Regions from separate parts of the Homo sapiens genome. Here regions 1, 2 and 4 are each reported to be linked to region 3. Evidence: microRNA targets listed by miRTarBase, many of them from high-throughput screens and not tested one by one. Region 3 holds a microRNA gene; each other region holds the end of a gene's coding sequence.

Region 1 (7,117 bases), not on the chromosome of region 3:
GGGACTTGAGCATCTGTGGATTTTGTTATCCTGGAATCAATCTCCCACAGATACTGAGGGTTGACTGTACTTTTAGAATATGGCATCCAAACATGACTTCTTTGGTTCTGCTATAATCCTTAAATTGTTTGATTTCTTGGTCTTGTTTCTTCAACTTAATTGCAAGTTCTTTAGAAGCTCAAACATCATAGGACCTTGTATATAAATAGCCAAGTATCTGTTTTTTCCCTTGCCTTTCTAAATCTGTGATTACATACATAGTATAAGCTTAGGGAAACATTTATTGGTGTGACAATGCAGAAGTTAACTAAACTGATTTAAGTCTTTGAAAGTTTTTGAAATAAAGATTTTATCATTTATTTTCTAGCTGTCACCACTGACTAAAGAAGAGAAAACTGCGGCAGAGCAATTCAAATTTCACATGCCAGATTTATGAAGAAATGGACTTGGAAAGGAAATTCTAACAGAGAAGAGCTTAATTCCGGAGAAATTTAGGAAGATGTCTTGTTAACCCTTGATGTCTAGAGATTGGGGGCTGGTGAAGGGGGTTTGGCTTCAATGACTGGATAATGATATCTTTCATGAGAGAGATTATAAGAAGAAGGGCAGATAATATATGAATAAAGTTCAGCCAAAAGGATCAAATGAGAATAAAACGATTTAAATATATGTACACACGCATGCACACACACACTTAGTCTTGTAATTTCAGGCCAGAAATTCTCAACACTATTTTGCATCTGTTTTCTTTTTCTAAGTCATGATAATATAGATGTTCTGGTCTATCATAAAAGAATGTTTATGTACATTTCAGTCATTCGGTATGTGGCTTTGTAAATTAAAGTATAGGCAAAACATTTGTGTTATACATGATATATAATTTCATTTTGTAAATGTTGATTGCACATGTGGTCACATTATTGTTGAGACTGCTTTTATGTGACCTGTAGTCTCCCACAGAACCTAAAGTAATAAGCTGGCTTTTCTGTGATAGCCACGTTTGCGTATTTCTTTCCCTATTTCCCTTGCCTGCTAATGTTGAACAGCATGAACTTGCTTTCTGATGCTGTTTTAGACTGTCCCTGTTGTATCTCAATAATATCTTTGTTTTCCTTCAGCCTTTATTACTATAATTGTTCATTCTACATGAAAGCTAGGAAACTGAAATTAGAAGAGCACTTATCTGCTACTTGCCAGTTTTGCGTGAGTGTGTTATATGTATGTGTCAATTTCCCTTTAAAATAACTATTTATTTTAAAATAACTATTGGCAATAAGGAAACTGTTCAAAGTAGAGGCAGATCTTGATAGAAAGATGTTAATCACAGGGTTGTTTATAATAGCAATATACATACACATTTGGCTAGTACTAGGTGAATAGGAAAATAAATCATGCTGTATGTATACAATAAGAGGTCAAGTTGCCAATAAATTATTACTGTTAATGTTCTGGGAAATGCTGAAACTATGCTAAGTGGGGGAGAGGGAAAGCAGGTATTGCAGTTTTGTAGTGAAGATTGGGCTTTGGAGTCATATCTGAGATGTAAGTAGCAGCTTTTAAATTCTAGCTATGACCCTGTGCAGATCACTTAACTTTTGAGTGTCAGGATGTTTGGAAGGACAAGACAGGAAAGTGTTTTAATACAGGGTTCAGTATTTAGTAAGCCTTCAATAAGTGATATTACATACATGTAATAAAAACTAAGCATTGAAAGGACTAGGAAAAATGCATCAAATGTTAGTTCTGCAGGTTATAGAATTATACTTTTATGTAATTTTAAAATTTCAGTTATGAACATGTTTGTCCATTAACAAACTTATAATAGCTGAAAAACAGGGTTGTGAGAACAGCTTCAGTTAAAATTGTCCTGTCTAGTTTGAATATTTCAAGAACAGAAAGCCTTTTTTTTTTTTTTTTTTTTTTTGAGACGGAGTCTCACTCTGTTGCCCAGGCTGGAATGCAGTGGTACGCTCTCAGCTCACTGCAACCTCCACCTCCCAGGTTCAAGCAGTTCTCTGCCCCACCCTCCCGAGTAGCTGGGATTACAGGCGCCCGCCACCACGCCCGGCTATTTTTTTGTATTTTTAGTAGAGATGGGGCTTCACCATCTTGACCAGGCTGGTCTTTAACTCCTGATGGTGATCCACCCACCTCGGCCTCCCAAAGTGCTGGGATTACAGGCATGAGCTACCGTGCCTGGCCCCCTTTTTTTTAATTACAGAGAAATAAGTTACACCTTAGTATCAGATATTAATTTTCTTCAGTGTTCAGGCAATTAGTATTTAGAAAGCTCTTGTCATGAGATGGCTCTGGGATGTGATGATGATTGTTGGGATTGAAAAAACGGTAGTATCATGGAGAGATCATAATAAATTCTTAGTATTAAAAGTGGTTTTGCTTTCAGTTAGGGAGAAAAATTAGATTGTACTATTTTTCCTCTATGATTTCCTTCAGTTATCTTCCAAATGTTGTTTTTTCCCCACAGCCCCCTTAACATTGTTCTCTATGCACTTCTCAATACATTTTCATTTGTTTCTCAAGCCTCTTTGTGGATGACTCCTAAATATAACTTCTTCCACTAGCTCTAGATCCGTATTTCCAATAAAATCCCCTACCTGAATATTCAAGTTAAACATGTCCAGAATACTTACTGATTTTATTGTTAATAGCCACTATTCTGTTGTCTGGAATTAAAACCTGTATAACTAATTTGCATCCCTTTATCTTCTTAGTCAATAAAACCTACAATCCTCTTTCTAAAATGGTCATAGTATACAACCTCTACATTATCTTCACACCTCCTTAATTTAGATCTTTTGTTTCTCATTTGGATTATAATTGTTTTCTCCTATGTGACTATAGTGTCTTTATGTCTTAAGTTATAAATAATACATGTTTAAGAATTTAAAAATCACAGGCATGGCCGGGCATGGTGGCTCACGCCTGTAATCCCAGCACTTTGGGAGGTCGAGTCGGGCAGATCACAAGGTCAAAAGATGGAGACCATCCTGGCCAACATGGTGAAACCCTGTCTCTACTAAAATTACAAAAATTAGCTGGGTGTGGTGGCACGTGCCTGTAGTCCCAGCTACTCGGGAGGCTGAGGCAGGGGAATCGCTTGAACCCAGGAGGCGGAGGTTGCAGTGAGCTGAGATTGCGCCACTGCACTCCGGCCTGGCGACAGAGTGAGACTCTGTCTCAAAAAAAAAAAAAACAAAAACCCAAAAAAACAAAAAAAAAACAACAACAAAACAGGCATATAAATTATCTAGAGGTAATCTGCAAATAATTGCTTCAGGCATTTCTACATGTATACAAACTAAAAAAAATTTTTTTCAACAAAAGTAGGTTGATACTATGCCTTGTACTGCTGCTGTACTTAGATTTTTTTTCATTTCATTATTTTATTTGAGAGAGGGTCTCGCTCTGTCACCCAGGGTAGAATGCAGTGTTGCTATCATGGCTCACTGCAGCCTCCAGGGCTCAAGCAATCCTCTTGCCTCAGCCTCCCAAGTAGCTGGGACCACAGATGCATGCCACCAACCCCTGCTAATTTTTGTATATTTTGTAGGACTTGGTTTCATTATGTTGCCCAGGCTGGTCTCCAACTCCTGGGCTCAAGAGATCTGCCAGCCTCAGCTTCCCAAAGTCCTGGGATACATGAGCCACTGTGCCCGGTCTTCAATTCTAATATATTTTTGTTATGTCACACATCCACCCTTCTTTTTAACAGCTGTAATCCATTATATGGCTATACCATACTTTTTTTTTTTTTTTAATTTTAGACAGGATCTGGCTGTGTTGCCCAGGCTGGAGTGCAGTGGTGTGATCTTGGATCACTGCAGCCTCAAATTCCTGGGCTCAAGTGATCCTTCCATCTCAGCCTCCAGAGTAGCTGGGACCACAGGTGTGCACCACCATGCCCAGCTAGATATATAGTCATTTTTATCAGTTCCTTAGTGATAGACATTTAAGCTCTATAACAGCAAGTTATACAAATAATATAACAAGTAAGTTGTATAACAGCAAGTTATTTAAGGATATGTATGAAGTTAGGAGATTTTTCTTGTGGGGAGGGCAGCAAGGTCAGCCTTTAAGGGATTCTGATGGAGCAGACCGTTGGCTCTCAAACCCCAGGGCTTGGCAAACGATGTGAGTTTAGCATCTTGCCAACTAAATTATTTATTTTGCTCAAGTTATCCTTTTTGCTTGCAACCAACGGCCTCTAATCAGCTGTACAGGTTTCTAATTGTTCGCTATTATGAATTGGTGCAATAAGTCCTTCGACATTCTTAGGTTCTTCGGCAAACATACAAGAATCTTAACTATTTATCATGTAAGTATTGCAATTTGTCTTATTTGTCTTCTGTACTGCTCCTTGAGAGCAAGGGCCACTTCTCATTACTCTGAATCCCAAGTACAGCATTGCATTTTTTTTTTTTTTTTTTTTGAGACGGAGTTTCACTCTTGTTGCCCAGGTTGGAGTGCAATGGCGCGATCTCGGCTCACCGCAACCTCCGCCTCCTGGGTTCGAGCGATTCTTCTGCCTCAGCCTCCCCAGTAGCTGGGATTACAGGCATGCGCCACCACGCCCGGCTAATTTTGTATTTTTAGTAGAGACGGGGTTTCTCCATGTTGGTCAGGCTGGTCTCGAACTCCCGACCTCAGGTGATTCGCCAGCCTCGGCCTCCCAAAGTGCTGGGATTACAGGTGTGAGCCACCACGCCAGGCCTAGCACTGCATTCTATAAATAATTCTTTTAAGTAAAATTCTCATAATATTAACCATCAACCATTTAAAAATGTACAACTGAGGCCATTTTCGTAAAAATAGCTCCATGTAGGTCAAAGACCACAAATAATTCTTACTGAAAGAATTTTTCAGTCTCAGATTAATCTTTCTAAATTATATCTTGTTCATGACCCAAGTAGTTAAAAAAAATTGTTGCTACCCACCACCTATAAGCCTAAATGCCTGATATTCAAGAACTTATTTCTAGATTATTAGTGATTCTCTACATGTGCACTCTAGGTCGGTTAAGTATAATTAGTTGTTTGCAATAAATACAGGAAAAATTAAATTCAAATTACGAATTTGATATGCCCTCTTTGTCTCACAAACCTTCAATTCTTGCAATCTTTACACATCTGGCAGGAAACTGTAGAAAGCAGATCCCATTTATAGGAAAGATGAATATCGCTGATACCCTTTCAATAGTCCCACGGCGACAACTTAGGCGGCAAGAATGAAGTGTGGGATGTGGGAACGAAGACTTCACAGTGTGTGGTCCCGTCCTCTCACCACCGTAATGAGAAATGACACCTCAGTTTGGAGCCTTCTAACTCGATTAGCTTTGGTAGGTGGAACGCAAGTCCTACAAACCTTAGACTGTTCCTTCCAGAGAGAACCACTAACCATGAACCTTCTGCACCAGGGTTTCTCAAAGTGCGGGCCACAGACCACCTGCTGCCGAATCACACGATGCTGGGTGAAAACGCGGATGGCCTGGGCCCCACCCTGGAATCTCAGAGTCCGAATACTTAACTACGGGTGTGGCTCTGAAGTCTGCGCTTTCCACCAGTACGCCAGGTGGCTCCGTCTTTGGCGCGCAAGTTTGAGAGCCGTGGGGCCCCGCCCTCCGCCAAGGTGGGCGTGGGTGGCGTAGCAGAGCCCCAAGCTCAGGCCGCCTGCGCAGGCTAGGGCCGGAGGCACGCAACCCTGAGGCAGCGAGTCGCCAAGTCTCGTATGCGCCCCGCAACGCGGGAACTAGGCGATCGCTCCACGCTCCTCCCCTCCTTTCCCCTCCCACAGCGTCCTGCGCGCATGCGCTTCGCAGCTTCTCTCGCCGCCGCGCCCCCAGCTGCTCTGGTTACGGTTGGTGTTTGCGAATTCTCTGCGGCACCTTCTTCGCTGAACTCCACCGTCAGTTCCATAGGCGCGCGCCCGCGTCACGTGGGCCGAGGTTCCGGCGCGGCTGCTGGCCGGCGGCTGAGCCGGGAGAAAGGAGCTGCGGCCACCGTTCGCCCTACTTCTGCGCCTCGGGGCGGGCGCGCCGGTAAAAATGGCGAAATGGGGGTAGGCGGCGCTGGACCTGAAGAGATGGGGCGCGCAGGTGGGGCGGTTGTCAGAGCCCCCTGACGTGGGCGCCGGGCTTTTATCGGCGATTTGATCTGGCGACCTCGGGCCGGCGCCTAAGAGGTCAGACTGCGGAGCCTGCGGGTCGCCAGCGGCCCCGCCGAGAGCCGGAGGCAATGGATGAACAGAGCGTGGAGGTGAGGGGGTTGTGAGGGTGGTGGTTAGTCCCCGCCCCCACCCGATGAGCGGTTTTTATTCGGGGAGTCGTGCCCATGTCCTCCCTCCAGTAGGGCACCCCTACCCCGCCCCTGCCGCTGTGGAGAGGGCTGGCCCGGTACCAAGGATGCCGTGCCCATTCTGCAGCGCTCCGGGTGTCTTGTGCTCACTGTTCCGCAGTCAGGTGGTGCGTATCCTGGAGTTTTCAAGGATGTCTTGGCACAGGTACTCATCCCCACCGGGTGTTTGCAAACAGCATCCTTTTCCGACCAAAACTGCAGATTCATCAGATGGATGTACCCTGCCACTCGCCACCAGTCCTTGCGAGTTCTTGAGCTGATCTAAATCTCCTTCCAAATGGATAGTCATCTTTCCCTCTCAGTGGCACATTTTGCAGGCTTCTGCCCTTCCTTCCTAGATTGAATCAGCATATATTATCTCATGTGTAGTTTCCAGAACAAACTCTTCTTTTTATAACTGATTCTTGTAAGCTGTGAGTTAAAATAGTTGGGATATGTAGGATATGTAAGTAAAGGCTAGGAATATATTTTAAAAGATTGTTTATTGAACATAATTGTGTAATCATTATCAAATTTTGAACCTTTCAGATACTGAAATAGGAAATCCTTGCTTTTTAGTAAGGGGTAACTATGTTATGGATATTCCACTTGAAACTAGTCATTCAGTAGTCTTATTGTCCACCCCGTTGCAGGTTACAGAATCTGCATCTCCCAGGTTCTTTCTGGCCCTACAGAGTCATGATGAGATTAATGAGTAATTTTCTCCTTAATTCCTCATATAAAGTATTATAAAGGTTTTGTAAACT
Region 2 (7,125 bases), not on the chromosome of region 3:
CCGTCTCAAAAAAAAAAACAAAAGAAAAAAAGAAAAAAATGCACATGAACTTTTCAGATTAGCTATCTGTTGGCTTTAATAATGTCAGCATAGGCTGGGCGTAGTGCCTCATGCCTGTAATCCCAGCATTTTGGGAAGCCGAGGCTGGTGGATCACCTGAGCTCGGGAGTTTGAGACCAGCCTGACCAACATGGTGAAACTCCGTCTCTACTAAAAATACAAAAATTAGCTAGGTGTGGTGGTGCATACCTGTAATCCCAGCTACTCGGGAGGCTGAGGCAGGAGAATCACTTGAACCCCAGAGGCGGAGGTTGTGGTGAGCCGAGATCACGCCATTGCATACCAGCCTGGGCAACAAGAGTGAAACTCCATCTCAATAATAACAATAATGTCAGCATAACACATCTGCATGGATACAGCTTTATGACTCCGTCCTTATCTGCCATCAAAAATGTTTTCATAAAGCTCTTTGTGTCCTCCCACCATTAGTTTATGAGATGTGAAGAAAAAGCTAACTTAGATTAGTTCAGGCAGAAACCTAAACTATCTGTAGTTTTAAGGGATAAAATGATGCTTGGGGACATCCCTAACCTTCTTCTAATGATCATGCTTGAAGTAGAGTGGTTTTTGTAGTTCACATTTAGAAACTCATTCTAAGCAAAGAAACCAATAGTAAAATCTAAGAATTACCAAACTACAAAGCACATCTCAAAAAAAGTTTATTATGTTTGATACAACAGATTCTCAATATTAGCAAATCATTCCACTTACCCCCAAGCGCCAGATCTTGACTGTACAGTCTAAAAACATTTGTCAAAGTGAGAAAAATGTTACAGAACATCTCATAAAAGAATTAAGATACAAATAGTATATACAGATAGTAGATTGTAACAAAGTGGAACGTACTTGCAAGACATCACCTAGCTAAAATACTTGATTCCCTATGAGGACAAACTGAAAAATAAAATATTTCAAGCACACAAAGAAAGGACAAAATAGGGGAAACCAATGGGAAATATAAAGTTTAAACTTATTTTTAACATTTAAAAGCAACTACACTTTTCCATTTGAGCCAGTTCAAAAAGGAGAAGTCAAATAAAGACTTTAGAATCCTGTGACCAACTATAATTTGAGCTTGATAACATGAATGGCATCTGAAAGATGCAAGCCAAGTATTTCTAGTACTGTGACCTTGAGAGATAATAACTGAGCAACCTGCTAGGTTAACCTTGAGGGGTAAATCATATTGATAGAACAAACTGAATAAAGTGAATGATACACCAGACAATTAGGCACCAATTAGGCTCACTTCTCCATTTTCCAAACCTACCAAAAAATATCTGAATAGACAGATAGATTCAGACCAGGGAGTGAGCAAAAAATAAAAATGATTGCTAATTAGGCAATTATATACTAAAAGTGGACCTTTTAAGGCCAGAGTTTTCATCCCAATCACCAGAGATCCCCATAATTTCACCGTATTCAGATTGGCTATCTCTACTTTTAAATTGGCACTGTCTAAAAATTCACAAACATTTATGGAATGGTAAAAATTTTGAGCTTCAAACAATTGAATACCATTTGGTGATGCAAGAAAATGCTAATTTTAAAAATAGCTTCTGATTTTGGAATTATGGAAGTCTAAATATAATGTTTTCTCACTTTAAAATGGAAAAAACTTTCGTGCTGTTTCTAAAACACAACATAAAAAGGGAAAACCATTTGGCACTGTGTACACACAGGAACATCCCAGTTTTAGTTTTTAATCATGTTTTTCAAGGAAACAATTACTTTCTCCAAATGCATGGTTTTTAAAGAGTACTTCGTATTTCCAGGACATCTTCTTTTGACCTAGTGTGTTTCTTCTTAAAAATCAATGACAGTTTTGTCTCTAGGTTTCTGACTTTTTGAAGCATGATCCCCAAAGAGGTCATAATCACTCATATTTTAAAAACCAAAAAAAATTTCATTTTTGTTAAAGTATCCCATCAATGAAAATAAAGTTGTACAGAGGTTTGAGATAAAGATAAGGTATTAGATTTTCTTCACAATCAGCCTACTAGCTTGACTGGCTCTCTTTTCCCAAAATGACATTTCAAACTCTTTTGAAGGACAGGAAGTTATAAAATGTAAACAATTAAGAATTGTCATACTCGGTTATTCTACCTAGTGTCCTCCAGTTGGTAAGCAAGACCAAGGAGTGTGTCGCTAAGAGAGAGAGACACTGGTATCCTTCCTGTTGGCTACTGCTCAAGTTAAGAAAATATCTTAAAATACGCCTACCTTTACCAAAAAAAAAAAAAAAAGTATATTTTAAATGATACCAATAAAGAACACATGCAGGCTTTTCTTTTCCTCCTAAAAATTAAAGCCAGCTTTCACAGTTGGTAAAATAATGGTAGGACAGCATTAAGACATTTTACGGGGGGAAAAATGTTTGTGACAGCAGAGTGGAAATCAGCGTTAGGATCCAGCCAAGAACAACAGAGGGAGTAAGTGAAGAATTGACTCAGGAGCAACTATCCTTAACATACTGACAGCCTATCCCAATATTTTGAGTTGTTTAAGAGCCAAGGCTGTAACAGGATACCAAATTTGCCATGAGATATATCTGTCTTTAAGGGTGTTTAAAAATAAAGTCAGCTGAAGGAAAAACAGTAGTTGAATCATAAAACTGAAAGAACAACTTATATAGTGTGTAAGGAACTCAAGAGAAACCAGTGAGCGAGCCTTTATGTGAACCACTGAAACAATCTCTTAAAAATAAGGCAATTCTTTTCTAAGTCAAATTCATTAGCAATGGAACATAATCTACAAAATTATTTTCTCCCATGATTTGAATGTCCATAGTCTCAGTTTTTTCTGGGCAGTCTTCATTTATTCCTTTTGTCCCACCTAATAATAGCCCCTTTCACTCTAAAAAGTATCCCAGTTTGGAAAATAATTATTTGGTCATTCTACCCAACTCCACTGGTTACCCCAAAACATTATTTTGAATAATCATCTTTTCCAGAAGTTACAGGCCTGAGGAACTTCAAGTTTTTAGAGAAAACATCACAAACTGGTATACAAGAGAAATACTGCAAAGTACAAAATACCTGACTCCAGTTTGGTTATCAGTAGTGCTGTCAGAACCACACTGGAAAACCAGGTCATGGTAAGAAGGTCTTTGTGGAGGCAGTGGAAGTAAGGTCATCTGAGGAGGGAAAAAGTTACCATTCCAGGTCGGCGCTGAAGGTTGTTCTGTAAACACTGTAATCCTCCCTGTTAGCATCTCAATTGTTTTGCTGCAAGAGCCAAACACCCTGAAAAAAGCTTGAGTGTTCCGGCTTAGGAAATGTACCTCCACAAGAGCAGGTCTTGGCTGTAGCAGGTATGGGTTTAAGAGATCAACTAGAGAACGAAGTTCATAGAAAAGAGCCTCTCTCTGAAGCCTAAGATAGTCTGAAAATTCAGTGGGTAATAAAAGCTGGTGAGTTCTCAAAAAATCTAAGATGAAACTAAACAAATCACCATCTCTGTCTACAAAAATCTGGCCACCAACCATCTTGAATTCTTGGTCTCTGCCATCTAACATGCGTGCCAAACGAGAAGCAGGAAACTGCTTTATCGTAGAAAACCTTGTCGTGAATATCTTCCCTCCCACATTCAAAGTGACCAGTTCCTGACTACTCATTCTTCCCTCACTTCAAACTAGAGGCTACCATCAGCCACACTTAGGAAATCAACCTATAACCATAAATGTTGCTAGTTATACATGATTATGCAGTGGAGGGGAGGGAAGAATAACAAAAACCAGACTTAGATTCCCAGGAAACTACTGTAAGGTAAATAGTGTATCCATGGCTGTGTTTGCAAATTCGAGTTGCCTGGGAACTTGCAGTATACAAAATGAAAAAGCAACAGATGAGGAACTAAATAGCTTAAGGAAAACTGCCAATATATCTGAAGATAGACATCAAATAGATCCCTTTCCTGTCTTACATTTAAAAACTTATCCATGAAAACCTAGTAAAACTATATATATATATATATATATATATATATATATATATATATATATATATATATATATTTTTTTTTTTTTTTTTTTTATTACTGGGAGGGGAAAAGCATTCTCCCTCCCCATACCTGTCTACCACGCAGAGGCTAGACTTAAACGTTTTTCTTAATTTCTTATGATCTCCTTAGAAATTTAGTGGCTAAATCATGAATTACATGTTAGGAATGAGACAGCCTGGCAAGCTCAATTTGACTATTCTCATAGCTAGAAGGAAATCATTTCTTCTGTGCTTTAAATTTAGTTGCCACCTTTTATCCTGTCCCCATTTTCATTACCTCCTCTCAACCAAATTAGAGGAGGACTGAGGTAAAGAACTCTTATTTTCAGAAAGTCTATTCCACTTAATGGGCTTTCAAGGAATATCTTACTCTATGACACAAATAAGGCAGACTAGAGAGCAGTTATAAGGTTACTTCTTTGTTATATGAATTCTAAGCAAGGTGTTTATTCCATGAGAGGGTATCTTTATCTCTTGTGAGCAGACAGAACAGCATTAGTGTTCAGCTGATTACTTTGTAATAGCTGACAGACTGTTTTATCTGTTGTCAAATTAGTCTTAACTACACTAAACATTCTTTCTGTAAGCAAGTGGATTGGTTTGGTTGTACACTTGCCATCTTTCGAACAAAACAACACATAGCTGCCAGAAAAAAGGTAGTCTTCCCATTTCCTGCTCTTGCCATGTGTTCTATATATACATATATATGTATATATATGTATGTGTACATATGTGTGTGTGTGTGTGTATATATATATATATATTTTTTTTTTTTTTTTTTTTTTTTTTTTTTTTGGTAGAGACTGGGTCTTGCTATGTTTACGAAGCTGGTTTCGAACTGGAACTCCTAGCCTCAAATAATCCTCCCACATCACTGTCCTAGAATGCTGAGATTATAGACATGAGCCACCCTGCCCAGCCAGCTGATCCTTTTTTTTAACCTATCTATGCTTTTGCTTGCATAGCCACTTAACATTTCTAGTTGATCATCTTTGGTGAAAACTACAAAAACAAAGGAGAAAAGGGCAGATTGAAAGCTCCACTCTCCTAAAAATGTAAACTTATCACAAGAAAATGCCAGGTTTTGTATGTACCATTCACATTTTGGTGATAATTAACTCTCTGTAGAAAATTTTGGAAATCTAATTAATTAGTACCTTCAATACCTTTAGTTGTCTCCCACACACGCGTGTGTGTGTGAAATCTTCTACAATATCTTCCCTTTTTTAGACCATGTTCACTGTCAAAAAGGTGCTTTAAGAGCAGTCTTTGGCTGGGCACGGTGGCTCACACCTGTAATCCCAGCACTTTGGGAGGCCGAGGCAGGCGGATCACGAGGTCAGGAGATCAAGACCATCTTGGCTAACAGGATGGTCTTAAGGGACAGTGAAACCCTGTCTCAACTAAAAATACAAAAAATTAGCTGGGCGTGGTGGCACGCGCCTGTAATCCCAGCTACTCAGGAGGCTAAGGCAGGATAATCACTTGAACCTGGGAGGTAGAGGCTGCAGTGAGCCAAGATTGCATCACTGCACTCCAGCCTGGGCGACAGAGCAAGACTCCATCTCAAAAAAAAAAAAAAAAAAAAAAGTGATCTTTACTGCATGCTTGAAGAACAATCACTACTATACTACCTATACTTCCATCAATACAATATTAGATCATATGATCTCTCACCTATTTTTATCACAGCATAAATACAACCAACATTTGGGGTGGATGCTTATTTCAAAAGCACTCTTTTAAACAAAAAAAGGTTCAGGCCTATACTACTAAATTTCACTTTTATCTTTATGCTACCTAATTTGAACATGTATAGATTATTTTTGGAAGGAATACTTTTGGAGGAAAATATGTGACTAGAATCGTTGACCAAATCTGAATTACCACTCTCTATTCTCTAACAATTTCTAACAAAAGAAAACTGCATACTTGAAACAGATTTTATAATAGTTTATATTTGCACACAAATTCTGCCACATTGTTCAGTACCACCAAAGTAAAATTCTTGAATCTTTCATTGAAAATGAAAAACCCATCTGTCACCTGTTCCCAGTAAAAAACTGATTGTTCTATGAAATCGGCTGTTTTAGTCAGATAGGAACTGAAGTTTGAAAGACAGCCTTTCCAAGTTGCCAGGTCATCAAATAATGACCATTCTAGGAACATGGTAGGACCAAAGACAATGACAAGGCCAAGCAGAAGGATTAGCAAAAATAACTTATAAAAGCTCCAGGGAATCTTGCTAATGAATGTGCCAGTGTCTTGAGGCAAAGAAAGTTTATCCACATCGACTAGTTTTATGTCTTCCCACTGACTGGTATCAAAGTTCTTCATTAAAGGGCTTGCAGGCAAATTAGAGGGAGGTAAAGGAGTTTCCTTGATTACTTTGATTTTCTCTCTAAACTCCTGCATCTGTTGCAGAAATACAATGGGTTCTGACACATCTTTGAAAGCCTCAGCAATGTTAAAGGCCATCCGTTGCTCCTGCAAGATGGTGTTGAGTTTGTTGATCTCTGGGTCATATGCTTGCATAACAGCAAGTTTCATGGTCTCAAAGTCAGACAGAATTTCATTCTTCTTTTGATCCAGTGTGTGTTGTAACTTCTCAAAAAATTCCTTCACTTTATCTGAATCTTTAGTCAGTAACTGTAGGGATTTCCTCTTACTAGTTTCCAAGGTATCCAAGCGAGAAAGAGCATCTCCCCGACGCCAGGTCTCAAAGCTCTGGAAGAGGGACTCAAAGGCATCCCTTTCCTGAGCATAGGCATCTTCAATAGAACAGAAGACATGTTTGGTGTGCTCCCCACGAGTAGCACAGATCCCACAAATCAGCTGCATATCAGTCAGGCAGAAAATGTTGAGAGGCTGCCCCAAGTGTCCTTTGCATACTGGCATTTTGGGAGAGATCTTGATCTTGTTATACTTTTCCACAATACCCTTCAGGGAGTAATTAACCTGCAGGCTATTAATTCCAGTAGCTGAAGTTTCCTTACGGCATGTAGGACACTTGAATGGAGCTGGTCTCCACAAGGAATTCCGCACACTCCCTTCTAAGATACCT
Region 3 (7,125 bases):
TTCACCCTTTGGTTCTATGAATTTGACTTTTTCAGATTCCTCATATAATCTTTCTTCCTGGTTTAGGTTTCAAAAACAAAAGCCAAGAAGGAAGATTATCTCTGGAAAAACCAATGAGGCAAGGAAATATAATGGCCTAGCTATTTCCTTGGAATTAAAGAAAAACATAATATTTACAAAACATAAGCTGATAAGAAAGATGAATTAAAGCATTGTTCCAACCACTCTGTACATATAATTTAAGAAAAAATGTTGGTATAAGAAAAAGTATTTTCTACTGTTTAAATATTATTATCATTTCCTGTATATAAAATTCATGCCCAATTTGTATGTCATTCTTGAATCCATAGCTTAATAAAAATAACAACAAACCAAAATAAGGTTTCATAAGTGATTTGTCAGTTTTATTTATATATTTGCAAAATGGAGATAATTTATGTGAGATTGAGATCCTTTCTACTATGTACACCTTCAATATAAAGACATTATTATTCTTTCTCAGTTCTGTATTTCTGAAAGTCTGTCAAATACTTTAAAAAATGATCAGATCTATGCAAGTGAAGCTTGCAGAATTTGCATTTGCCCTCAATCCCTCTTCTTCCTCTAGCTTTTCATGTGTCTTGCCTTTGTTCCCATTTCACTAAGCAAGCATTGGCCTGCTGCTAATGCACTCACGTTTCCCCACAAGCTCTCACATTCCCTGGAATATTAAACGAAAAGAGAGCAACCAGGACAGGCAGACCAATTTCTTTCAGGTATACTGAATAAATTCCAGTAAGGCTCACAAATATTTCCTTTATTCTCTAACTACTCAAATTATTGCTAGTTTCTCTCCTTACAAGAAAATAAAATTTATTTGTAGGAAAAGGAAGTGAATTATATGACCAGTGATGCTATTTTATTTCATAATAGTGAATTTTTATTGTGTTTTTCCCATATGGCATAAAAACTATCTCATACAGTGCGAAACACTTACAAGCACTCTCACAATTATTTCCACTTCCAATGTGCAAATCACAGGGAACCCAAAATAAGTTTGAAGGTGCTGTAAGAATAGGTTCGAGGCAGAATATACAGTAGAGAAAGGGGATAACGTTTAAAACTAGCATAATGATTGGTGTGTCTTGGTTTTCTTAAGTCCAAGTACCAGGACTGACAATATGATAAACTGTCATCTCTACCTTAAACTCTCACCCTTGCCTTTCATTTGCAAATGAGCAAGCAAGTGGCCTGTTTTAAACACATGGACCATTAACTGCTTTCTTCTATTTGCATAGTAATGATAGTGAGCCAATGGTGATTTACTGCTCTGACTTGTATCATAAATAACAGATCATTTACGCTGCTAATTACACTCATTTCCATATCAATAATGCATTCTGGGTTGGGTTGGACTACTGCATTAGAAAATGGAATTGAATGACAAATTGATTTCCTACTAAAATGGTGTAAAACAGTTGTCTATGACAAGAAGATACTATTAAGTAATGTAGATAAGTGCAAAAGACATTTTTAAAACTTATCCTGTAGCTTGAATCATCAAAAGTATAGATTGGTCAGGAAAATATTTATCCCGTTTGCAAACACAAATGTGTAACATTTGATTATATCTATTGGTATCTGTCAGTACTACTTGGCTAGAGTATGGCTACCCCGAGCCCTCTGTCTCACATTTACTTTGTGGGTGGGCCAGTTAGCTTTTAGTTCTGCTATGTGATCCTAGACTGCACTCACAATCTGTAATGGTTATTTTTAAAATATAGGCTTTACTTCAAAAGGGGTGATTGTGTGAGAGTGTGGATAGGTGGTGGTACAAGCGCATCATTATTACTAAAGAAGCACTAAAGTTTAATATATGCCTTATAGATCAGTGATGTTAGATATAAACACGCAGGAACCTTGAGGAACTTTCATATTCACAATAAATATATTTATGGTGCATACAGGTGTATGTTTAGAGAAAGCCAAAGAGCAGTGGTAGAGATAAAGAGATTGAGGTTTTCTGAAAACTATTTAATAAAAATATCAGCTTCTCTATTTCAGCTGCAAGAAATTACTAAGACACTTGAAAATATACATTTAGAAGAAAATGTGTGACGAAAGAGATCTAATTTGTATAACCACCATCTTTCTAATAACTATTAGGTTGGTGCGAACATAATTGCAGTTTTTATCATTACTTTTAATGGCAAAAACTGTAATTACTTTTGCACCAACCTAATATTTTAGTGTGCATTTGGAAATAAATGCACGTAAAAAGTAACTAAATCAATTCAAAACTTATTCTCAGATTTGCTTGGAGCCTTCTATAAAGAGTGATATCACATTCAAACTTAAAAGTAGAGAACAATGACAAGTAATATATTTACAAAGTTGTTAGAGTCTAAAATAGATTATAAAGAAGTTCAGACATTGTAAAATGTGAAAGGAGATAAAGTCTCAGATTTGAATTTTTGATATAAGAAGACATTTCTGAAGATAAATGATTGAATACGTGAACATTGATTCAGAAGAAAAGTTTATGATTATAATTAAACCAAAAAGCTGCTAATTCTCATGATTAGGTGACTTATCCTGCATGTTAATAATTTGATTTTTAAGGCATTAGGTGGATAGGTACAACAAAATGAGGAATACAAAAACTTTTCTATCTCCCCAAATGTGGGTAAGAATGATGGATACCAACTAGCAAGAAAATGTTAGGAAAAAGAATGAAGCAAGGACAGTGATTTAAAAGATGTTGTTCATTGATAGATCACTTTATAAATAGTGAAGTGATAAAGATACATACAGTGTAACCAAGAAGGGAAGAGGGAGATGGAGGAATGATGAATTTGTTACCTGTAATTTTCCTAAGATCTGAAAAATGTGTCCTTCTAAATCAATATTATGTTTATACTATAACCAATATGACCAAATTGCAATTATGTTAAAATATGGATGTGTTTTATTTTGAGGAGACTTTTTGATATTATTGTTTTAAATAACCACTGCCTCCTTATTTTTGGAGAAATATACAATTACTTTGTAATAATATACTGATTATTGTATAAATATATAAGGATACATATGTGTGTATATACATATATATGTATACATATACATATATGTTCATATATATGTATACATATACATATATGTTCATATATATGTATCCTTATATATTTATCCAACACATATATATTATATATTATATGTAAAATATATATCTGTTATTTATTATATATCACACATGTTAAAGTTCTAAATAATTTTTTTAATGTGAGCAAATATTGTCAGACTAAAGTTTATTAAAATTTGATTTACTTTTACTTCAAAAGAGTTAATGAATTAGATCCATGATACTAAATTAAATTCTTGACTTTAGTATTACAAATATTTTATAATGACAGTTTTAAGAAAGCTTAGAAAAATCTGCTAGCATCTATAAAATGTCATATATAAAAGATAAATCTGATTAGTTGTGTTCATATTTCTGTGCAGTACTTTTTCTTCACGGATACATGGATAACATTAGGTATCACCTACACCATTATTTTTCTTTATGTATAACTAAAATGACATGGGTCATAGTCTCCAGTAGAAGACCACAATTAATAATTTGATCAATTGTCTTTGTGCTTATACTTTCATTTCTGAAGATAAGTAAAAGGCTTTTTCTTTGTTTATAGACATAAACTAAGTATTTGTGGATTTGTATATTTTTGGGTTTTCCAACTGTTCTCTTTCACAACATTCCCCTTCTACACCAAAAACAAACAAACAAACAAAAAAAGAAAACAAAAAAAAATTTGTTAATCCAGGGTAATCTAGTTTTATCTGATTACTATAGGTGAGCTATAGCTGTTATTAGAGGTCAATTCATTGCTCCAGTAAGACATCAACTTGATTTGTTTAGCAAAGTTTTAGTATATATACTATGTACTACTTGTCTGTAAAAATACGTGTTAGAAAATAGCAAGGCTCTCTTTTTTATATAGCCTTGAAAAGTTGTTCTCTTATAATTGGGAGAAAAAATAAGTGGGCTTTTATGTGCATAGATGGACTTTACCTGTTTCTTTTGGATATATGTGGATATATGTGCATGGGGAATAGCTTGAAGGGGAGTCAACAGGAATGGCACAGAATTTCACTCATTCTGTAGGCTCCCTAGTGGCAGGGAAAGTCCTACCATTGTAAGGTCCAGACACAGTACCAGACACAGAGTAGGTAGGCATTCAGTACATATTTATTTAATGACTCATCAGTCTGAAGTCTTGAAAGTAAAACAAAGATAGTCTCTTAGGTTCTAATAGCTAAGTAGGTAGTTGATTATAGGATGACTTGATGTATCCTATACATCAACTTTGTATTAGCCCCAAGGAGACTCAGACACCAAAATGAATTCTAAGATAAAATGCTAAACAACATCTAATAAGAAATAGCTTATATTAAGCCATTATTGCCAATGATTATGATTAATTAATAATTGTAGATTGTATTTTAGAATTTATTACTTTTAAAAGCTTATGATTAAACATAAAATTCCAAAAAGTTATTTAGGTTTTAATAATAAACTTTTGGGAATTTGGGAAAAAATACCTCATGTACAAAATCTGGGCCATAGGCACACTCTCCTGTAGCATTGGTTCAGTAATTCAAATCATAAAGTCAAGTGAGTGTCTACTCTCATCAGGTGAAAGTATACCTTAATGAAGGGTTCTGTTTGCATGGTGTATCACCTTCCTTAAATTTGAATATACAAACACAAAGCTATCAAGAGACAGCATCAAATGCACAGACTTCAATTAAAGAATTTTAGAAATAGATATGCATGCAGTATTACAATTATTTTTATTTTGATTATGCTATATGGGTAGCAATTAACATTTAATCATTTTCATATATATGTTTGTACACTAACCCAGAAGCTTTATACAGCAGACAACTTATATGTAGATAAAAATAAGGCACATGTGTGTCATACTTAGTTGCTGCTTTTCTACTTATAGTATGAACTGAAATGATCAATATGGCATTTTCTCCCTGAAGATGCATGTTATTTTGCCAATGGTTACCAACTCTTGACATTACTAGTTGAACCTCTATACATGGTCTTCTTTCAGCTCAAAGGTGACACCTCTTTTTTCTGTGATTCAGATAATCACTGTAGCTTTTGGCATCTTCTGCTGTCACTTTTTAGAAAGATAGTGGCTGTGTTACAAAGCTTTTCTTTGTGCTGTGTTTGGTGACTGTAACGTGTTTTCAGCCCATATGACTAATTGTTCCTCTATGTATGCTGATCATTCTGAATTTGCTTATAATTGCATTTTTTTTTGCCCCCTTCACTTACCTAAACCCTATATACTTAAGTGTCATAGATATGGTTATGTTACTAGCTTTACTCAGAGTATTTATTTACACAGATTACTTTACATTTTTCATCGTTTATCCTCTTACTCAAGTTATTATTTTGGTTTCTTCTAAAAATATGGAATATAGAATTCATATATTAAGAATAAAAAATTCTTTAAAGCTATTGTACTCTGTGGTATTTCACATAATATTAACCAGCTGTTAGCAATGACTGATATATACTTCCCATTGAAAATGATGTAAGGTCTGAAAGGATTCATTTTGACAATTTTATATCACATATTTATATTTACCTTAGGTGGTTCTTTTTAATGTTTTAATTTGGGACCACACTAATTTCTAACTTGGTAACTCATCTCTTACCAAAATTAATACCAAGCCAAGAAAAATGGTTTCATGAATAGAATCTACTAGTCTTTTATATCTTATAATGGTAGATCACTGATGAGGTAGAACTCCATAAGAGCTTCGCTCTCACAGTAAAAGGTTTTGGTTGTGCATGGATTACACCTGGTGAAAGTTGGTTAGTATTGTCTAAGTGGCTTAAGACAAATTTATTTTGATTTGTATTGTGATGACTTTGCGAAGCACCAGAATTTTTCCCGCTTCGTGTGTGTGTGTGTGTGTGTGTGTGTGTTTTGAGTCCAAGTCTCACACCGTTGCCCAGCCTGGAGTGCAGGGGCATGATCTCAGCTCGCTGCAACCTCTGCCTCCCGGGTTCAAGCAGTTCTCCTGCCATAACCTCCTGAGTAGCTGGGACTACAGGCATGTACCACCACTAATTTTTGTATTTTTAGTAGAGACAGGGTTTCAGCATGTTGGCCAGACTGGTCTCGAGCTACTGACCTCCAGTTATCCACCCGCCTTGGCCTCCCAAAGTGCTGCGATTAAAGCATGAACCACTGCTCCCAGGCTTCCCTGTTGTTTCTTAATCATGAATGCTTTTGTGACAATTCACCAGCATTCAGGAAATATTAAGGACAGATGATGTATTATCCCATTGAGCAATTAGAAATCTGCTATTTAGTCATATTACAAGATTCTAAATCTGGGATACTTTTCAATGGTGAATTATCACTGTGGACATCTTTAAAACTGCATGTTTCCCTTATGACACCACATCATCATATTTGCCTTCCCTGAAGTAATAACTCTTTTCTGCATGTTTGTTCGTTAGATATCTTCTTAATGCAAACTTTGAATTAGAGTTGTGTAGATAATATACTTTTCATTTGAAATTATTTAGACTTTTTCAACAGTATTCCTAAACACATTGATTCACTTTAGTGGTTGAATTTTTAATCTCTTTTGATTACACAGATGACTCCAATACATTATTATCCAGAGCTATGCAATCAGGTCAGAATTCTGTGTTTTCAAACAGAGAACCCTACAGAAAACCACACCATTTTTCATGTCTTCAAATTTTCCTAGTGTAGTGATGTGGATAGTTTTGACAATCTTCCATCTTCTTCCACTTAGTGGTTCTTAAAGACATTTTTGAAAAACACTAATTTTCAGTTGAACAGTGTAAGAAACCAGGCATGATGGAGAATTCCTCATTCTTACTGACAATATCCCAAAATGACAGCTCCCAAGGAAAGTGGTTTCTCATATACTATAATATGTTGAACATTTTGTACTACTTGTGACACTAGATATAGAAAACAAGACTAGATGACATAAGAAAAGTGTTAAGTCAATTGAAATTGTGGAATTGTTGGTTCAATATATGTATGCAGTTTATCAGCATGAAGAGCCTTTAGTCTG
Region 4 (7,125 bases), not on the chromosome of region 3:
CTGGCTGATTCTGAATTCAGAAGGTAAAGGAATTCATATTTATTTTATAATATGTATACTTTGCTTTAAAAATGTATAAACTTATAAATTTTCAAATAATTTAAAAATAACTCATTTATAATAACCCATAACATATTAACATGAATATATATTTTTATGAAAAATAATTTAGTGCAAATCTCTTTAATGTCTGGCTTAACTAAAGACAGAGGCTCATACCTGCTTCTGCAGATAACATACATCACGTAGCCCCTGGAAAACACTACACTCATGAGAGAACGAGGGTGAAAAAAGCGATTAATGCCTTAGTATTCTTGAGAAAATAGTTTTTACCTAATGAATCCCTTGAAAGGGTCTACTCCACAGACCACACTTTGAAAACCATTGGTCGCTTCTAAGAAATATATATATCATACTGTGCATTTTCAGGATAAGTGTGACTTTTTGTTTTGCTTAGTCCTGATTTTTGTGTTTTTATCCCTCAAAAATGTTTAAAGCATTTGATACAGCCTGGTGGATGGATATAGTGCATATATAGATCATATATGGATATATGGATAGATAGATGGATATAGTGCATATAGTAGGAAAGTCTTCCTACTACAGTTGCCATTTTTTCTCCCTAGATTGCAAGCAAGTGCTATGAGGTCAGAGACTATACTTGTCTTGTCCACCACTCCATTCCCAACTTTTACCCTAAGGTTATATTAACTTCTAATGTCTGATATATCAAACATAAAGTTCTGATTTTTCTTTTTCAGATACAACCGAAGGAAGTACTCAGAGATCATGGCTGAAAAAGCAGCAAATGCAGCAGGAAAAAAGTTCCGAAAGAAGAAGAAATTTCGCAATTAAGATTTACCAAGCAAACTGCAACATTTTACATTGCTCCTTTATTTACTTATTAAAGACGTTTGGAAAACTAACACCATCATCTAAATTAATTTACCATAGACTGGCCCTGTTCATACAGGAATTTGTATTTGGAAAAAGTTGATTTGAGAATCGATTACATGCCCTTAGAAAATAGGGGTGTCTAAAAGACCCACCCTGGTGTAGACTCTTTATGGGAAAAAAGGAAAAAAAATCTCAACCATTTTAAGATAACTGATGGTTTGTAAAGTTTTCAATGCTTAGTTATTTAAAGAAAATTTAATTAAAAGATAGGAAGTATAAAGTTTGCTAACATGTTCAAAGAACTTTAAAAAATGATCAAAGATATATAAACATTATTGTAATTAATAGGTAGTTTTATGTGTGTATGTGTGTGTGTGTCTGTGTAGGGGACGGGAGATGGTAGAGAGGCAATGCCCTATAGTTAGCTATAAAATTCAGATCCAGAAAGTTGGGATACAAAGATATGAAGAATATGACCTAGAAAGCTTGGGCAGAGGAGCTGTTTTCCTTGCTTGGCAACTGAAACAGGGAGGAATAATTGGTTTTTATCTAGATTTAAGTGTTGTGGTCCAAGTAAAACAGGATTAAACTATAATTTAAGTTGGCCAGGGTTTCTTCGAAGTTAACCCAGCTTACCTCTTCTCCAGTGGTACAGTATGCACCCTGGCTAAGCTGGTTTCTGGCACCCAAGGAGTGTTGGTCATTTCTGTTGATACTTGGTGAGTTGTAGCTTCCTTTATGTTACTATTCACTTTACCTCTATTTTTCCAGCATACTGCTTCCTTGAGATATCAGCAAATATGAAATCTTTTTTTTTTTTAATAATAGTTTTGGGGTACATGTGTAGAACATGCAGGTTACATAGGTATACACGTGCCATGGTGGTTTGCTGCACCCATCAACCTATCTACATTAGGTATTTCTCCTAGTGCTATCCCTCCCCTAGTCCCCCACCCACAACAGGCCCCAGTGTGTGATGTTCCCCTCCCTGTGTCCATGTGTTCTCATTGTTTACCTCCCACTTACGAGTAAGAACATGCAGTGTTTGGTTTTCTGTTCTTGTGTTAGTTTTCTGTTCTTGCTGAGATGATTTCCAGCTTCAGCCATGTCCCTGCAAAGGACATGAACTCATGCTTTTTTATGGCCACATAGTATTCCATGGTGTATATGTGCCACATTTTCTTTATCCAGTCTATCATTCATGGGCATTTGGGTTGGTTCCAAGTCTTTTCTATTGTGAACAGTGCCACAGTAAACATACTTGTGTATGTGTCTTTATAGTAGAATGATTTATAATCCTTTGGGTATATACCCAGTAATGGGATTGCTGGGTCAAATGGTATTTCTGGTCCTAGATCCTTGCGGAATCACCACACTGTCTTCCACAATGGTTGAACTAGTTTACACTCCCACCAACAGTGTAAAAGTGTTCCTAGTTCTCCATATCCTCTCCAGCATCTGTTGTTTCCTGACTTTTTAATGATTGCCATTCTAACTGGCAATGAGATGGTATCTCATTGTGGTTTTGATTTGCATTTCTCTAATGAGCAGTGATAATGAGCGTTTTTTCATGTTTGTTGGCTGCATAAATGTCTTCTTTTGAGAAGTGTCTGTTCATATCCTTCACCCACTTTTTGATGGGGTTTTTTCTTGTAAATTTGTTTAAGTTCTTTGTAGATTCTGGATATTAGCCCTTTGTCAGATGGATAGATTACAGAAATTTTCTCCCATTCTGTAGATTGCCTGTGCACTCTGATAATAGTTTCTTTTGCTGTGCAGAAACTCTTTAGTTTAATTAGATCCCACTTGTCAATTTTGCCTTTTGTTGCCATTGCTTTTGGTGTTTTAGTCATGCAGTCTGCCCATACCTATGTCCAAAATCTCATATTTACTGCTTGGAGTCAAAAGCTAGTAATAGCAGAACTGACAATAACATTCATAGTTGGAGTTAGGGAAGCATCTATGTCTGTTCTCTTTTATTTTAAAAAAAAACTACTTTTGTTTCTGGAATACTATGTTTTGCCTTCTACTGGATAAAATAAGGACCCAGTATGAGAGAATTGTATCCTTTAGTGCTTCTGGCCTTCTACAAATACCTGGATATTTAAATAATGGATGAAGTTATGTTTTGCTTTTTAATAAGCAAGTCTTTTGAGAAACAGGTTTTACTGACTTTGGCCTGTGTCACTAAACTCAGTTCACCTACTGGAACTTTTTTTTTTTTTTTTGAGACGTCTCACTCCATCACCCAGGTTGGAGTGCAGTGGTGCCATCTCAGCTCACTGCAACCTCCGCCTCCCAAGTTCAAGCGATTATCATACCTCAGCCTGCCAAGTAGCTGGGACTACTGGGCATGCCATTATGCCCAGCTAACTTTTGTATTTTTAGTAGAGATGGGGTTTTGCCATCCTTACCTCAAGTGATCCACCCGCCTCGGCCTCCCAAAGTGCTGGGATTACAGGTGTGAGCCACCATGCCCAGCCAACTGGAACTATTTGAAGGCTTTATACCAGAAAAGTATAAAGAATCCAAAGGGCTGCCACAGTCAGGTGTGCTGGTGAAAGAGACCTTCAAGATACCCCTGAGAAGATCTTGAAAGATTTCGAAAAGAATGCTGTATTTATACACCATCTGGCTCCAAGATGCTTTTTTTTTTTTTTTTTTTGAGAGACGGACTCTCGCTCTGTCGCCCAGGCTGGAGTGTAGTGGCATGATCTTGGTTCACTGCAACCTCCGCCTCCCGGGTTCAAGCAATTCTGCCTCAGCCTCCCAAGTACCTGGGATTAACAGGCACCCACCACCACACCCGGCTAATTTTTGTATTTTTAGTAGAGACGGGGTTTCACCATGTTGGCCAGGCTGGTCTTGAACTTCTGACCTCAGGTGATCCACCGGCCTCAGCCTCCCAAAGTGCTGGGATTACAGGCAGGAGCCACCACGTCTGGCCCAAAATGTTCTTAAAACAAAGTAGATGCTGTAAGACTACAGTTGATAAAGTTGGGCTCTGGGCTAGGTTCTTAGCATCCAACACAATCAGTTCTGTGTTCAGTGTTCTGCTGTATGATAAACCAACTGCTCTAGAGAAACACCAATATTCCTCTTCTGAAACCTGGGAAAATGTCTTTTTTGGGTCCCATAACTAGATGTCACAAAAGGAGTGGGGAGTGGGGAGGCTATATAAAAAAGTTCAACAAAACCTTAGTAACTGGTATACATTAATAGGATCCCATTCTTAGAAACAGCAAGTTAAAGAAAATACCATAATGGGAAAAAAAAGTTAACATTTCTGAGAGATGTACCAGGTATTCAGTCTCTCAGGCAGTGACAACTTGTTCAGAATAATTACCTACAATAGATCCCAAACCATTGAAAAATGCCTAATTGTTTACTTAATGGAATTTGTACTTACTATTTAATTAGATGAATATCTTTATTGAAAGTTTTCAGTAAGGGTTGCAACAAAAAGGGCTTTCTAATTAACCAATTCCCCAAGCATCTGTCTAATTAAAATGTAAAGTGCAATTATTCTCATTGTCACATAGTTTTTGAAGTGAAGAAAAATCTTCCAAGAAGTAGGATCAATACCATGACCTATAATTAAATGTCATAAGCGGATCAGTGTTCTATCACTGGAGAAATGAGACATCTCCAATGAACTATGAAATGTAAAATTAGGTAAGTTTGTGCATAGAGGATTTCTAGGAGGACATACAAGACATACCTTCAAATCAAGATGGCCCTGTAGTTCCTCAAGCTCAATTTTATCAATTCCAGTTACCCTCATTTCCAGTTCACTTTAGCGAATCACTATCATGGCCTTAGACTCGTTGTTTGAGAATTCAGTGGTCAAGATTCTTAACTCAGACTACCCCAATTTGTATCTTGTTATCTGTTATCCTGTTAGTCTTCCCTTCAGTTGTCTCCAACTTAGCCTTGGCTGCAATTTGGAATTACCTATGGTGGCTTCAAAATGCTGATGCCTGGGTCTCACCCCCCAAACATTGTGAAATCATGATTTCAAGCCTTTCAGCCACTCATTCTCTGAATCCTCTATCCTCATGAAGATACATTTTTCTCCCTAACCAATCTAGACCCAATTCATCAGACATTTCAAAAATTCTTTGTATGCCCCGCTAGTCTCTTTATTAATAGTCTTTTGGTTTCTGTTACTCTCGCCTCACCAATCCCAGTCAGGGAAACACTCACTATTCTTATTCTTACCAGTCTAGATTATTGAGATTCAGGAAAGTATAATGAAGCTATTGACTCAGCTGGGTTTTCACTGCCACTCCACAATCCATTTATTCAATTTTAAATACTTTCTGCCAAATTCAGTCATTCATCCTGCGAGTCAGCTAACACAAATAATTGAGTCCTGTGCATTATATAAGCACTTGGGTACAGCAGGGAAGCTAATGCAGCCTCTACACCCAAAGAGCACGCAGGAGATACAGGACACTTCCATTCTCCCAGAACCCAACTTCCACGCCTAGCCTCAGCAAACTACTTACTCCTCCTCCGCTAAACCAGCCATGGCCATCTGATGAAGGCTGCCTTACCTCCTCATGGCCCCACCAGTCTAGAGAAACTGTTCCTACATACTGCTATATTCAATTTTTTTCTCAGTCTTCATCCCTTCTAACCAGACAATGTCATCTGACACACTGATCTTCCCCTTCTTGAGGCTTCAGCTACTCTGCTTCGGTAGGAAGATCAGCTTTTCTGCTTCTCCTACCTACTCTTTATTTTTTTACTCTGTCCATCACTTAAATTGTTGGTTTCCCTAATGCCTGCCCTCATCTTCTTTCTCGATACTGTTTGACTTGAGTATCTTGTCCTCCCTCTCCTTCAACTTCTGCTCTCATCTCTTCAGATGACACCAGAGTCTCCATCCTTACATCTCTATCCCCCACCCTCTGTTGCAGACTCACATTTCCAATTAACTGTGCAAATTACCCATATGAAGTACTAGTAAGTTATCTCAAATTCCACGTATCTGGAACCAAACACATCATTTTTCTGAGATGATTAAATAAAAACTAGCACCATGCCTAGTAAATAACAAGTACTCAAAGGGAAGCTACTGTTTCCCTTTTCTCCCCCAACCTCCCCATTGAACAGTTTTAATGAGGCCATACTGCATTTTACCTTCTATGGCTCACCTCTGCGTAATGACACATACAGAAACCCTACATTCAAGACCTGACATTCAAGCCCCTCCACAAAATGACGCCACCACAGGTTTATATTCACTGCTTCCCTACTCATGCCCTAAACTTCACTTGTGCTACTTACTTGCCTATTTCTCTCTCAGCTCTTTTCACACCCTTTCTCTGGTCTGCTCTGGAGTGTCTGGATTGCAGGAAACTACATTTCCCAGATTCCCTTGCCAACTGGCTTAACAGTAAGACACTGACAAAAGACAGAGGGGCATGAAGAGGAAATAAACCAGGGTATTTCTCTCCTCTGCCTTGGTTTGGGTTGTGGCCCCACCATGCTCCCAGCCCCCACCAGCCAGATGACTCAGGCTTCCAGGTTCCGGTAACACCATCTCCCATTGTCCCTCTGGCACTAGAGGTGGTAGACGTTTCCTACTGTTGCAGTATCTGCGTTGCCAACACTTTCAGCATTTCTGCCACCTGTGGAACAATTCCCTATATTAAATTCTCTAGAGTGATGTGTTTTTCTGTCCAAACCAGACTGATACATTTCAGCCAAACCAAACTACTTGATACTGAGCATTCATTCAATCAACATATACTGAGTTCCATGCACACCAAGTACCATGACAGGTTCACCTTTTATGTCTTTGTTCATATGGTTAGTTCCACCTAAAATATCTTTCCTGCCTCCATTTCACCTAACAAAATAGTACTGACCTGAAGCCTATTCAGCAACCAATACTTTGAGCATCTCCTCTGTGTAAGGCACCACACTAGGTGCTAGGGGTGCACAGGAAAGGAGGTCATCCTAGCCATCACAGAGCTGACAGTCTACATGCTTCAGAAAGCCTTTTTCAGATTCTCTACACGGATGTATATACTCCTATTTGCCTGTGCTTATTTTTACTCCACTTATTTCTATTTAACAAATGTCTATATAGCACTTATTGTCAGGGACTGTTCTAAGGACTTACACATATAACTTATTTTTATGTTACACTTATGTACCTAAGTTCGTATGTACATATGTAACATTATATTTGTATGTAATAACTTAGGCATTTGG

What was found. Region 3 holds the annotated microRNA hsa-miR-548f-3p (AAAAACUGUAAUUACUUUU, at 2,191-2,209, shown strand). A microRNA usually pairs through its seed, bases 2 to 8, with sites in the 3' UTR of a target mRNA and lowers its output. Matches are read on the target gene's strand: a 7mer-m8 pairs with bases 2 to 8, a 7mer-A1 pairs with bases 2 to 7 and ends in A, and an 8mer does both.
Region 1: miRTarBase lists SKA2 as a target of hsa-miR-548f-3p. Seed matches in the 3' UTR shown: 7mer-m8 at 1,195-1,201 and 7mer-m8 at 1,500-1,506.
Region 2: the mRNA of TRIM13 is a reported target of hsa-miR-548f-3p. Seed matches in the 3' UTR shown: 7mer-m8 at 5,982-5,988, 7mer-A1 at 4,013-4,019, 7mer-m8 at 3,930-3,936 and 8mer at 2,670-2,677.
Region 4: miRTarBase lists DNTTIP2 as a target of hsa-miR-548f-3p. Seed matches in the 3' UTR shown: 7mer-A1 at 1,248-1,254.

Annotation. Positions count from the first base shown.
Region 1 is chr17:59,105,596-59,112,712 of GRCh38, reverse strand. SKA2 (spindle and kinetochore associated complex subunit 2) reads left to right here. Exons shown (of 4, transcript NM_182620.4): 4 at 368-2,856. The coding sequence ends at 436. TRIM37 (tripartite motif containing 37) reads left to right here and starts at 5,833. Exons shown (of 24, transcript NM_015294.6): 1 at 5,833-6,272. The coding sequence starts at 6,252. LOC124904039 (a long non-coding RNA gene) reads right to left here and starts at 5,617. Exons shown (of 2, transcript XR_007065864.1): 1 at 5,122-5,617. RefSeq lists enhancers at 5,310-5,389, 5,430-5,479, 5,850-5,949, 5,426-6,085, 6,040-6,169 and 2 more and a silencer at 5,610-5,719.
Region 2 is chr13:50,012,045-50,019,169 of GRCh38, reverse strand. TRIM13 (tripartite motif containing 13) reads right to left here. Exons shown (of 2, transcript NM_213590.3): 2 at 703-7,125. The coding sequence ends at 6,006. It overlaps KCNRG (potassium channel regulator), which reads right to left and starts at 3,726. Exons shown (of 2, transcript NM_173605.2): 1 at 3,099-3,726. The coding sequence starts at 3,676. The region is part of intron 10 of DLEU2 (deleted in lymphocytic leukemia 2); the gene reads left to right.
Region 3 is chr2:212,421,368-212,428,492 of GRCh38, reverse strand. It overlaps MIR548F2 (microRNA 548f-2), which reads left to right and starts at 2,133; the gene lies at 2,133-2,230. The region is part of intron 1 of ERBB4 (erb-b2 receptor tyrosine kinase 4); the gene reads left to right. It overlaps LOC124906116 (a long non-coding RNA gene), which reads right to left and starts at 3,002. Exons shown (of 2, transcript XR_007088065.1): 1 at 2,218-3,002; 2 at 1-2,131. RefSeq lists an enhancer at 968-1,501.
Region 4 is chr1:93,863,581-93,870,705 of GRCh38, reverse strand. DNTTIP2 (deoxynucleotidyltransferase terminal interacting protein 2) reads left to right here. Exons shown (of 7, transcript NM_014597.5): 6 at 1-23; 7 at 762-4,422. The coding sequence ends at 855. Among named protein-coding and RNA genes, the nearest start is that of DNTTIP2, 12 kb to the left of the region's middle.